Linked DNA regions of Homo sapiens. The protein of the gene in region 1 purifies or fractionates together with the protein of each later gene. This does not show direct contact. Each region holds a gene or a part of one and is shown in the gene's direction. Other genes may lie near its edges. The genes, in order: SEPHS1, FAIM and MCFD2.

Region 1 (3,652 bases):
GCCATTTAAATTTGTTTCCTTTCTTCAGAAATAGGAAGTTTTTAATTTTATGATGGAGTTTTCCTCTTGTCACCCAGGCTGGAGTGCAATGGCGCGATCTCAGCTCACTGCAACCTCCCCCTCCCCGGTTCAAGCGATTCTCTTGCCTCAGCCCGAGTAGCTGGGATTACAGGGCTGTGCCATCATGCCCAGCTAATTTAGAGACGAGGTTTTACCATGTTGGCCAGGCTGGTCTTGAACTACCTCCTGACCTCAGGTGATCCACCCGCCTCGGCCTCCCAAAGTGCTGGGATTACACGTGTGACCCACCATGCCCAGCCACAAGGTTTTTACATTTTGTAGAAGTAGACTACAGTTTTTCCTCATCATCTTATTTCTACTTAGAGAAATAAATTTTGGCCCGGTGCAGTGGCTCACGCCTGTAATCCCAGCACTTTGGGAGGCCAAGGCGGGTGGATCACGAGGTCAGGAGATCGAGACCATCCTGGCTAACACGGTGAAACCCTGTCTCTACTAAAAATACAAAAAATTAGCCGGGTGTGGTGGCGGGCGCCTGTAGTCCCAGCTACTCAGGAGGCTGAGGCAGGAGAATGGTGTGAACCCGGGAGGTGGAGCTTGCAGTGAGCCGAGATCACACCACTGCAATCCAACCTGGGAGACAGCGAGACTCCGTCTCAAAAAAAAAAAAAATTTATGGCCTATTTACTGGAAAGAGCAACAAAGGTTTATTTTAATGTATTTTATACTGTTTGTCTTTTGGATATAATGACAGAGTCATGACTGGAACCTAGATACTTTGGGGCATACACTGTTTCATGAGTCTTAAATTTTCTAAAAATACAAAAAAGCATTCTCGGTAAAATGAGAGAGTCGATGTAGAGAATCAAAAGTTCCCTTTTGTTTGTCAATATTTGTTTCAGTGTAGCTTGGAAAAAATAGCTACCACATGGGTTATTGAAGCCCCAAACACCTTACCCCTACACAGTGTTATGTGGTTCACGAATAGGTCATTTTCACAGTTGAAAGTTGGAGTGTATATGTGTGTGTGTTAGGAGTTTACTAGCAATTGCTTAATTACAGCATAGAACAGGCCTCTTAGGCTGGGAGTGGTGGTTCATTCCTGTAATCTCAGCACTTTGGGAGGCCAAGGCAGGTGGATTGCTTGAGTCCAGGAGTTTTAGACCAGCCTGGACAACACAGTGAAACCTTGTCTCTACAGAAAATTAGCCAGGTGTGGTGGTGCACACTTGTAATCACAGCTACTGGGAAAGCTGAAGTGGGAGGGTCACCTGAGCCAGGACATTGAGGCTGCAGTGAGCTGTGATTGTACCACTGCACTCCAGCTTGGGCCACAGAGTGAGACCCTGTCTCAAAAAAAAGCTGCTTAGTTGAATGGGAAGAGCTACTTGCATATAGGTGGCAGCAAGTTGTTGATGGAAGTTGGATCTCTGCAGAAGCAGCAGAGGCAGAGAAGCTGCTGTCATGTCAACACTAACAGTCATTCTTGTTTTCTTTTGCCAGGCGGCCTTCTGATCTGTTTACCACGTGAGCAAGCAGCTCGGTTCTGTGCAGAGATAAAGTCCCCCAAATATGGTGAAGGCCACCAAGCATGGATTATTGGGATTGTAGAGAAGGGCAACCGCACAGCCAGAATCATAGACAAACCCCGGATCATCGAGGTCGCACCACAAGTGGCCACTCAAAATGTGAATCCCACACCCGGGGCCACCTCTTAATCTAGACAGAAATAGCTGTTTGGTTTTGTTTTTAAATAGATCTATTTCCCTTATCACTTCAATTAAAGACTATAAACAACAAAAATCTCATTGTGTCTACACATCGGGGTGACCTTAGGTCGGTTTGTAAGTGGATACAATTAATAAAATAAAATCCATTGCCTTTTTTTCCTGTTACATTAACTGAAGATGCACCTAATCTTGAGGCAGCTTCTGAGTTGAGAATTATATTGTTATCCAATACTGTTGATTCATTTTGAATCTTTAGACACTTATCTCTTGCCGCATAGGCTTTTTAAAGGTGCTTTCACATAGCACAGGCATTACCCGTAGTCGTGTCAAATAGCAGTTGGTGTCTTCATTTTATGTATATTTATCATATAAGTCTGATTTTTTTTTTTAAGCGTCTTGAATGGTTTTCTGGAGAGACAGCATTGGTAAGTGGCACATGACGGTATCCCAGTCATAAGAGGGTTGCATGATTCCTTTGAGTGTTTGATTTGAAAAGCCTAGTCTTGTCTCTCAAGAGCATCTCGGACCCAGAACATTCTCCAGTAGTGCATTCAGTTCAACACAGCAAGTGCTTCATTGCATGGAAAACACTTTGAAGACAAAAAAGAAATCTTATTTCTTTTTTTGTAGCCTTCCTGATATTTACAGTAATACCATTAACTGTTTTATCGATAGCAAAAAAGGATACTTTTTGCAATGTTATTAGATGTTCTATAGTGCTACAAGGAATTGCCTTCCGAATGGAGGTTCATGTATAATACTCATTTACAATTCAATATATAATTACACAAATAATTTTTAAATATAATCAATAGTAAAGACTGTTCTGTGGATGGTAGTGTTTAATACATTTTCTATTTTGTACAGTGATTTCAGGCCTTTTGTTTTCTTAAAATCAGCAGCTGTTTGGCCTAATTCTTAGCATTATTTTGTCCTTTGCGCCAGTACTTTTTTGTGCACGCTTTTTGTGATCTGTGTTAAAAACCTGCATTGCCAACATTGCAGCTCGAACTTAAACTTGTTATTCAAATAAATATTTAATTTTTTAAATTGCTCTTGTATAATCAGATGCCCCTTTTAGTATTATTTTAGAAGCGTTGGGAGGGTTTTGCCTAAAGTACAATTTATCGGGAAAAACTAGATTTTAGTTTTATAAAACTTTTAAGTCTTTCATGGGACCTATATTTTCTTGAATTAAATTTTGTAGTTCTAGAATAAATAGGCAATCTAAAAAGGTGTTCTCTGTGTTATGTAAAGTGGAGGCTTCCTTATATTTTAACCTACTAAGCAATGAGGAGGGATTCCTGTCATTAAGCACAAGGGCGCTGGATCCTCAAGTGCCCATCTTCGTGAGAGAAAAAGCAGCACATCCTGCCCATTTCTGGTGCTTTCTGCTCACAGGCACCAAAGCTGCACATGTAAACTGACTTCTTGCCAAAGGAAATGACCCCTGGGAAGTTCAAGCTCCTGGAAGAGGCTTTAACTCGGACGCGCCCTCCTCCAGGAACCAGTGGGCAGGGCAGCCTTCATGCATGTGTAACTGGACCTCCAGCCATAAGCATGGTGTGCAGTATGGAAGAGCCTGCTACGGAACTGAAAGTGATTGGACATTTTATAGGAATTGATAGAGATGTTGGTCCTCAAAAGCTACAAACCAGTGGTCTGCAAAATAAAGTGTGTTGGAAACCTCTAGTGAGATAAACCTACTGTTGAGCTTTTTTTTTTTTTTTTTTTTAAATAACGATGACTGAACTTCAGTGTAGCCTGTGCCGTGAGAGCTGGTGTTTTCCTCAGTGGCAGGCCTATTGAGAGGAGGGAGCTAAGTGGAGTATGTACTTAAGGAAATAATATTTGTGAAGATTGATATTTATAAAGAGAAAATGTTGGGTACTTAGAGGTCCGTG
Region 2 (3,652 bases), on another chromosome or scaffold:
AAGCGACCATAAATATAGACGCTATCAGTGGTTTTGCTTATGAATATACTCTGGAAATTAATGGGAAAAGTCTCAAGAAGTATATGGAGGACAGATCAAAAACCACCAATACTTGGGTATTACACATGGATGGTGAGAACTTTAGAATTGTTTTGGGTAAGTTAGTGCTGTTTCCGCAGAACTTTTTTTTTTTTTTTATAATGTCTGTTTAATTCCTGTAACTGTATTCAGACCTTCTATGGAGGTTTGAAAAGAAGAGGGAGTGTAAGTGCAGGTGTATTTCATTTGTTTAGAAACATTAAAAAAATTTTTTGTTTCCTATCTGCTTGGGATTGTCTAGCAGGTGTGTATATTGTCCAGCAGGTGTATTTCTAATGTGTCCTGAGTAAATGAAGCATTCATTTAATCCACCATTTTATATATAAGATATCTTAAGCCAGGTTTTATAGTGATGGATTTGAGGATTATAAATTTAGGTTTTAAAAAAATGTAATATTGCCAGGCGCAGTGACTCATGCTTGTAATCCCAGCACTTTGGTAGGCTGAGGCGGGTGGATCACCTGAGGTCAGGAGTTTGAGACCAGCCTGGCCAACATGGTGAAACCCCGTCCCTACTAAAAATACAAAAATTAGCAGGACATAGTGGCACATGCCTGTAATCCCAGCTACTCGGGAGGCTGAGGCAGGGGAAATCACTTGAATCCAGGAGGCGGAGATTGCAATGAGCCGAGATCGCACCACTGCATTCCAGTCTCAAAAAAAGCAAGACTCCATCTCAAAAAAAAAAAAAAAAGTAATATTGATGTAGATTTTGGTATTATTTGGTATTTCTCTTTATAAATATATCTTAAAGGCAGTTGGAAATTTAGGATTTATCAGTAAGAAAGCAATATTTTCCTAGATAACAATAGGCTTAGGACTGCATCAGATCAAAATTATCAAAGTCTAGGACTTTTTGAAGAGTTTTTTTTGTTTGTTTTTCTAGGCTTTTCTGTTTGGGTTTCTCTTTTCTTATGGGAAGCAGATATATATCTTTTCTTTGCCCATATTCCTATGTCTTTTAGCAGTTTTACTCGTGTTCTCTATTGCTTGGAATTCTTTTCATTCTTTTATGTTTTTGAGACAGAGTCTCACTTTGTCGCCCAGGCTGGAATGCAGTGGTGTGCATGAACATGGCTCACTGCAGCCTTGTCCTCCTGGGCTCAAGTGATCCTCCAGCCTCAGCCTCCCGAGTAGCTGGGACCACAGGTCCATGTCACCATGCCAGGCTAACTTTAAAAAAATTTTTTGTAGAGACAGGGTCTTGCCATGTTGGCCAGGCTAATCTAGAGCTCCTGGGCTCAAGTGATCCTCCTGCCTCAGCCTCCAAAAGTGCTGGGATTACAGGTGTGAGCAGCTGTGCCCACCCTTCTTTTCATTCTTAACAACAATATTCTTGGAAGTCTGTTGCCCTCCTGTTCTAAGTATCCAAGTCTGCTGCTTTGTGGCCACCCTAGGCTTTCTTTCATGGAACCCTTTTGTTCTTCCAGTTATTGAACCCCACAACTCCTGCTTTCATCTTTGTTTACTGGAATATATTCCTTAGGTAATCTCCTGATAAAGGGTGTCTAAGAAATAAACATTACTTTGATCCTCATGCTAAGTTGATAGTTTTGTTCAGTACAGAGTTTTAATTTCAAACTCACTTTCTCTCAGAATTTTTGAAACCCTTATTCCAGTAGCTTCTATTCTCCATTGTTTTAAATGAAAAGTTTTGTGCCAATCTGAATCTCATTTTTTTCTTTCCAGAAGGTTTTGGGAGCTCATCTTATCCCTTATATTTCCAAATTTCATAGTGATATGTTTAGGAATATAGTTACTCAACCTGCAATAAAGTTTTAGAACCACTGGATCTCATTAATAATGGAAATTTTAGTTTTTAAAAGGATTATGATTAGTGTCAACACACTTAAACATATGGGACTTTAACAGATGATGAAACCAGGCCTTTAAATTAATTTTAGGTACTTAATCAGCTGCTTTGCCAACTTGTAATACAATTGATATTAACTTTTCCTAGGTGAAATGGAAGAGACTGCCTGAGCTATGCCTAGCATACAGTTAGTTCTCTTTTAAATGTCCAGGGGCCTGCTTATCTACTTGTGAATTATCTCGGGTCTTTAAAAAATATATTTTTCTGCTTTTACTCCTTGTCTGCCTTTACTCTTCTTTATCCATTTGCAATCCCTCATGAGCCTGGAAATGAGACAGAGTTCAGCCCCAACTTGTCCCTTTTGCTGTTTGGAAGGGATAAGGGACCAGAGTTGTTTACTGAGGTAAAGGCAAAATTGCATATGTTATTGATATTGCTTGCACTTCTGCTTCCAAGATCCATCAAACTTTGGACTATGCTGACTACAGCCTACATTTTACAGATTAGTTATGAAGAATGCAGGCTCCAGGATCAGAGCTGTGTGATGGGCAAATTACTTAACCTCTGAACCTTGGTTTCCTCATCTGTAAAATGGGGATAATGTAACTCCCTCACAGAGTTGTGATATGAGTGAAGTTTAATTGATTTAGTACATGTAAAGTACTTAACAGTGTTTCTCACATTGTGAATTCTTTAAAAATATTATTTGTCAGCCAGGTGCAGTGGCTCACACCTGTAATCCCAGCACTTTGGGAGGCTGAAGTGGGAGGATCGCTTGAGCCCAGGAGTTCAAGACCAGCCTGGGCAACATAGGGAGACCTCATCTCTTCAAAATATTTAAAAATTAGCTAAGTGTAGTGGCACATGCCTGTAGTCCCAACTACTTGGGAGGCTGAGGCGAGAGGATCACTTGAGCCTAGGGGTTCAAGGTTGCAGTGAGCTAAATTGCACCACTGCATTCCAGCATGGATGACAGAGTGAGACCCTGCCTCAAAATTTTAATAATTTGGCTGGGCATGGTAGCTCACACCTGTAATCCCAGCACTGTGGGAGGCCAAGGCAGGTGGATCACTTGAGGTCAGGAGTTCGAGACCAGCCTGACCAACATGGTGAAACCCCATCTCTACTAAAAATACAAAAATTAGCTGGGCGTGGTGGTGGGCACCTGTAATCCCAGCTACTCGGGAGGCTGAGGCAGGAGAATTGCTTGAGCCTGGGAGGCGGAGGTTGCAGTGAGCTGAGATTGCGCCACTGCACTCCAGCCTGGGTGACCAAGCAAGACTCTGTCTCAAAAAAAAAAAAAATTGATAATAATTTAAAAATATTATTTGTGGTGATTATTACTACTCATGGGCAAAGAATGGGCTTATCTAGAGTCTCCTGGTAAAATTCACTCTTGTATGTTATGTGGCAAGTTTCAAATAACAATATTATATGACTTGCTAAATTTTATATTGAGAAATTAGAGCAAGGCCACAAAAAAGCTTTGAATAACAAAACATTATGATTTACTAAGGTCATATTATGTGCCAGATACTATACTAGGCACTTTATATAATTATTTCTAACCCTTATAACAGCCTATGGGAAAGGTGGTATCATCTTCATTTGCCCCTGAGGAAATGGAAGCTCAGAGTGGTGGTGACTTGCCAAAGGGTACTGCTAGTAAAGAGTGATGCTGAGAGCTGACCTCAAAGATCATGTGCATTTTTTTTCACCACCTAAAAAATGTGAGGCATA
Region 3 (3,652 bases), on another chromosome or scaffold:
GCAAGAATAATCTTCCAGTCCCTTCAAGCTTTCACGTGTTGCTTGGCACTCTGCAGGCACTTCAGGAAACCTCGTGAGCCTTCCCCTGCCATTTGAGTGACTTGGAGTGCCCAGGGTCATCCCACAGTCTCAAAGCAGAGCTGGCATTGGGCCGTGTTTGACAAGCTCTCTTCCTAACCTTACTGCTTCATCAGGTTTCCCAGGATCATACCATGTCAAGCCCTGAACGAAACCTTTGCTCTGATGCTCTGCCTTCCTCTTCTGTGTTTCCCATCTCACAGATATTGATGACCATGAGATCCCTGCTCAGAACCCCCTTCCTGTGTGGCCTGCTCTGGGCCTTTTGTGCCCCAGGCGCCAGGGCTGAGGAGCCTGCAGCCAGCTTCTCCCAACCCGGCAGCATGGGCCTGGATAAGAACACAGTGCACGACCAAGAGTACGTATTCAGCCCGGGCTGTGGTCCAGTGGCCTCCCCATCATCTGCAGCTGAGCCAGCGGCAAGGGCATGCTCAGTCCTCCTTTCCTTCTTCCTGTTTCTATGGCTCCTTGACATTCTTCAAGGATGATTCTTATTCCTTATTGCCACCTATAAGTCAGGTATTCTTTTTTCATCATTGTATCACAGGTGGAAGATCTTTAGGCCCAAATGGGGCACATTACTTGTCTGAATCCGGTCTCTCCTTTTTTTCACCACAGACAGACACACACACATACAAATAGACACACAGGTACACATACACAGTCATAGTAGCAGAATCCAGAAAATAGCTAAGGTTTCTTGACTATAACAAGACCTTTTTTAAATCAACACATTCAAACATTGAATCATTTGTTGCAGCTTTTGTCTTGGGCCAGTTAGCCTCACGCATTATACTCGGTTATCCTTTGTTTTTAAGGCTGGGTGCAGTGGCTCACACCTGTAATCCCAGTGCTTTGGGAGGCTGAGGCAGGTGGATTACTTGAGCCCAGGAATTCGAGACCAGCCTAGGCAATATAGGGAAAACCTGTCTCTACTAAAAAATTGCAAAAAATTAGCTGGATGTGGCAGTACATGCCTATGGTCCCAGCTACTTGGGGGGCTGAAGTGGGAGAATCAACTGAGCTTGGGAAGTTGAGGCTACAATGAGCCAAGATCACGCTCCTGCACTCCAGCCTGGGTGGCAGAGTGAGACCCTGTCTCAAAAAAAAAAAAAAGTTTTAAAGGACATATTTTTAAATTGATGGCCTGAAAATGTTATAACAAAATTCTAATAATAAAGAGGAAAGAATACCCTAATCCTGCCAGCATAACAGATGGTCTATTTGACTTTTCCTGCTCCTCTCAAGGCCTTGTCTATCTCTGTGTAATCCTTGAGTGTGGTCTGCCACTGCTGGTGTTTGTTTTTCTGAGCTGGAGGAAGTTTAAGATCTTGAACTTTTCAGAGTCCTTAAGATTTCAGCATGATCCCAGTATCTGTCAATTGGCCTGAACCTGACTGTTGATTTTTAGGCATATCATGGAGCATCTAGAAGGTGTCATCAACAAACCAGAGGCGGAGATGTCGCCACAAGAATTGCAGCTCCATTACTTCAAAATGCATGATTATGATGGCAATAATTTGCTTGATGGCTTAGAACTCTCCACAGCCATCACTCATGTCCATAAGGAGGTAGGTCTGGCAGTGGCTTGGGGGACTGTATCACAGAAAGGCTTCCCTTTGTTAATTTGGTCCCCAGTCTTGTTGACTTGTGTTGTCCTTATGTGCCAAGAGTGCTGCTTCTCCACTGGGCATGATGGCTCGCATCTGTAATCCCAGCACTTTGGGAGGCCAAAGTGGAAGGATCACTTGAGCCAGGAGTTCAAGACCAGCCTTGGCAATATAGTGAGACCCTGTCTCTACAAAACAAACAAAACAAAAATTAAAAAATTAGCCAGGCCTGGTAGTGCATGCCCGTAGTTCTACGTACTCAGGAGGCTAAGGTGGGAGGATTGCTTGAGTCCAGGATGTCGAGGCTATAGTGAGCCATAATCATGCCACCGCACTTCAGCCTGGGCAACAGAGTGAGGCCTTGTCTCAAAAAGAGAAAAAAAGAAAAGAAAAAAAAAGGTGCTGCTGCTTCTTTCTCTTCTGTGTTCTGCCTCTTTCTGTCCAACGATCCTTCCCGCAAAGGATAACTTGCTGAGGCAGAAGTCCCAGGGCTGGGCATTTGTATCTTTAAGTGCTACAGGCATTTCTGTTACACACCAGAGTATGAGAATCAGTGCCTAAAAGACAGACCGTATTCAAACTGCAGAGCAAGGGAGAAGTTGTTTAATGGTGAATTGACACCAAGGGATTCAGGGACGTGGCAGTAATTGAGGGCTTGTGTGATACTGTATGGTGCTCCAAAGTTTCTGAAGCCCTTTCAAGTAGGTTAGAGATCTCGTTGGATCTTTGCAACATCTTGAGTAGGCAGTGGCAGGCATTGTTAATACTTCCATTTTCAGTGGTGCATGCCTGTAGTCCCAGCTACTCATGATGCTGAAGTAGGAGGATCACTTGAACCTGAGAGGTTGAGGCTGTGGCAAGCTGCGATGTTGCCACTGAATTCCAGCCTGGGCAATAGAGCGAGATCCTGTCTCAGAAAACAAAAAACAAACAAAACCCTCCCATTTTCTAGGTGAAGACACTGAAATCAAGATCTTGTGCCAGGCTAAGCACAGTGGCTCATGCCTATTATCCCAGCACTTTGGGAGGTTGAGGCAGGAGGATCGCTTGAGCCCAGGAGTTCAAGACCAACCTGGGCAGCATGGTGATATCCCGTCTCTACAAAAATTAGCTGGACATAGTGATGCTTGCCTGTAATCCCAGCTGCTGGGGTGACGGGGTGGGAGGGTAGTGGGGAGGAACACCTGAGCCTGGGAGGTCGAGGCTGCAGTGAGCTGTGATCGTGCTACTGGACTCCAGCCTGGGTGACAGAGTCAGACCCTGTCTCAAAAAAAAAAAAAAAAAAAAAAAAAAAATCCTCGTGCCTCCACATTTAATGTCATTCCCCTTCTGCCACACTGCCCTCTATAGAGAGGAAGCAAGGCAAAGTTAGCCAGGTGAGTGGGATTACATTCGCTGCTAGGAGTGCAGGTGAGGTTTGAAGGCAGCAGGGAGCATGAATGATTTTGCACAGGAGAATGGCATTGTTTAGGGAAGATCCTTGGTTGTGGGAGACAGACTGAAGGACATGAGGAGAGACTAGTGTTAGGCGGAGGAATTAGGGGTCAGCAGTCCTGGCAGATGAGGATAGTGGTGGTGACAGGAGAGGGAATGGTGAATGTGGGAGATGTGGCAAAGGAAGAACCAGCCAAGGATGTGAACAGCCTCAGCCCACTAACCCTGCTCTTGGAGCATGGGAAATACTTTCTCCTCAAAGATCATAACAGGTTCTGCTCATCGGCAGTGCCTTCTTCCTCTTGTTTTGATGCCAACTTGTTGTCCAATTCGTCACTGTTTCTATTTTATCAGGCAAATTTGTGCACAGAGCTGACCCTCAGGAGGACTGGCACTTTTCCAATTAAAGAAGAATGAGCCATAATGAAACAAATAAGCAAAAGCCTATTTTGAAGGGCCTTCTTTTAACTGGCAAATGTAATTTCTAAACTGGATTATGATAAATTGACTCAATAATACATATTCTCTCT

The links.
Region 2: the proteins of SEPHS1 (region 1) and FAIM fractionate together in Homo sapiens (co-fractionation; one large-scale study listed by BioGRID). This does not show direct contact.
Region 3: the proteins of SEPHS1 (region 1) and MCFD2 fractionate together in Homo sapiens (co-fractionation; one large-scale study listed by BioGRID). This does not show direct contact.

Annotation. Positions count from the first base shown.
Region 1 is NC_000010.11:13,317,226-13,320,877, reverse strand, and holds the end of SEPHS1 (selenide, water dikinase 1), read left to right. Parts: intron 1-1,521; coding exon 1,522-1,736; 3' UTR 1,737-3,450; downstream 3,451-3,652. UniProt on the Homo sapiens protein: Synthesizes selenophosphate from selenide and ATP.
Region 2 is NC_000003.12:138,622,261-138,625,912, forward strand, and holds part of FAIM (fas apoptotic inhibitory molecule 1), read left to right. Parts: coding exon 1-156; intron 157-3,652. UniProt on the Homo sapiens protein: Plays a role as an inducible effector molecule that mediates Fas resistance produced by surface Ig engagement in B cells.
Region 3 is NC_000002.12:46,905,807-46,909,458, reverse strand, and holds part of MCFD2 (multiple coagulation factor deficiency protein 2 isoform A precursor), read left to right. Parts: intron 1-281; 5' UTR 282-287; coding exon 288-436; intron 437-780; exon of another isoform or gene 781-1,489; coding exon 1,490-1,649; exon of another isoform or gene 1,650-2,575; intron 2,576-3,652. UniProt on the Homo sapiens protein: The MCFD2-LMAN1 complex forms a specific cargo receptor for the ER-to-Golgi transport of selected proteins. Plays a role in the secretion of coagulation factors.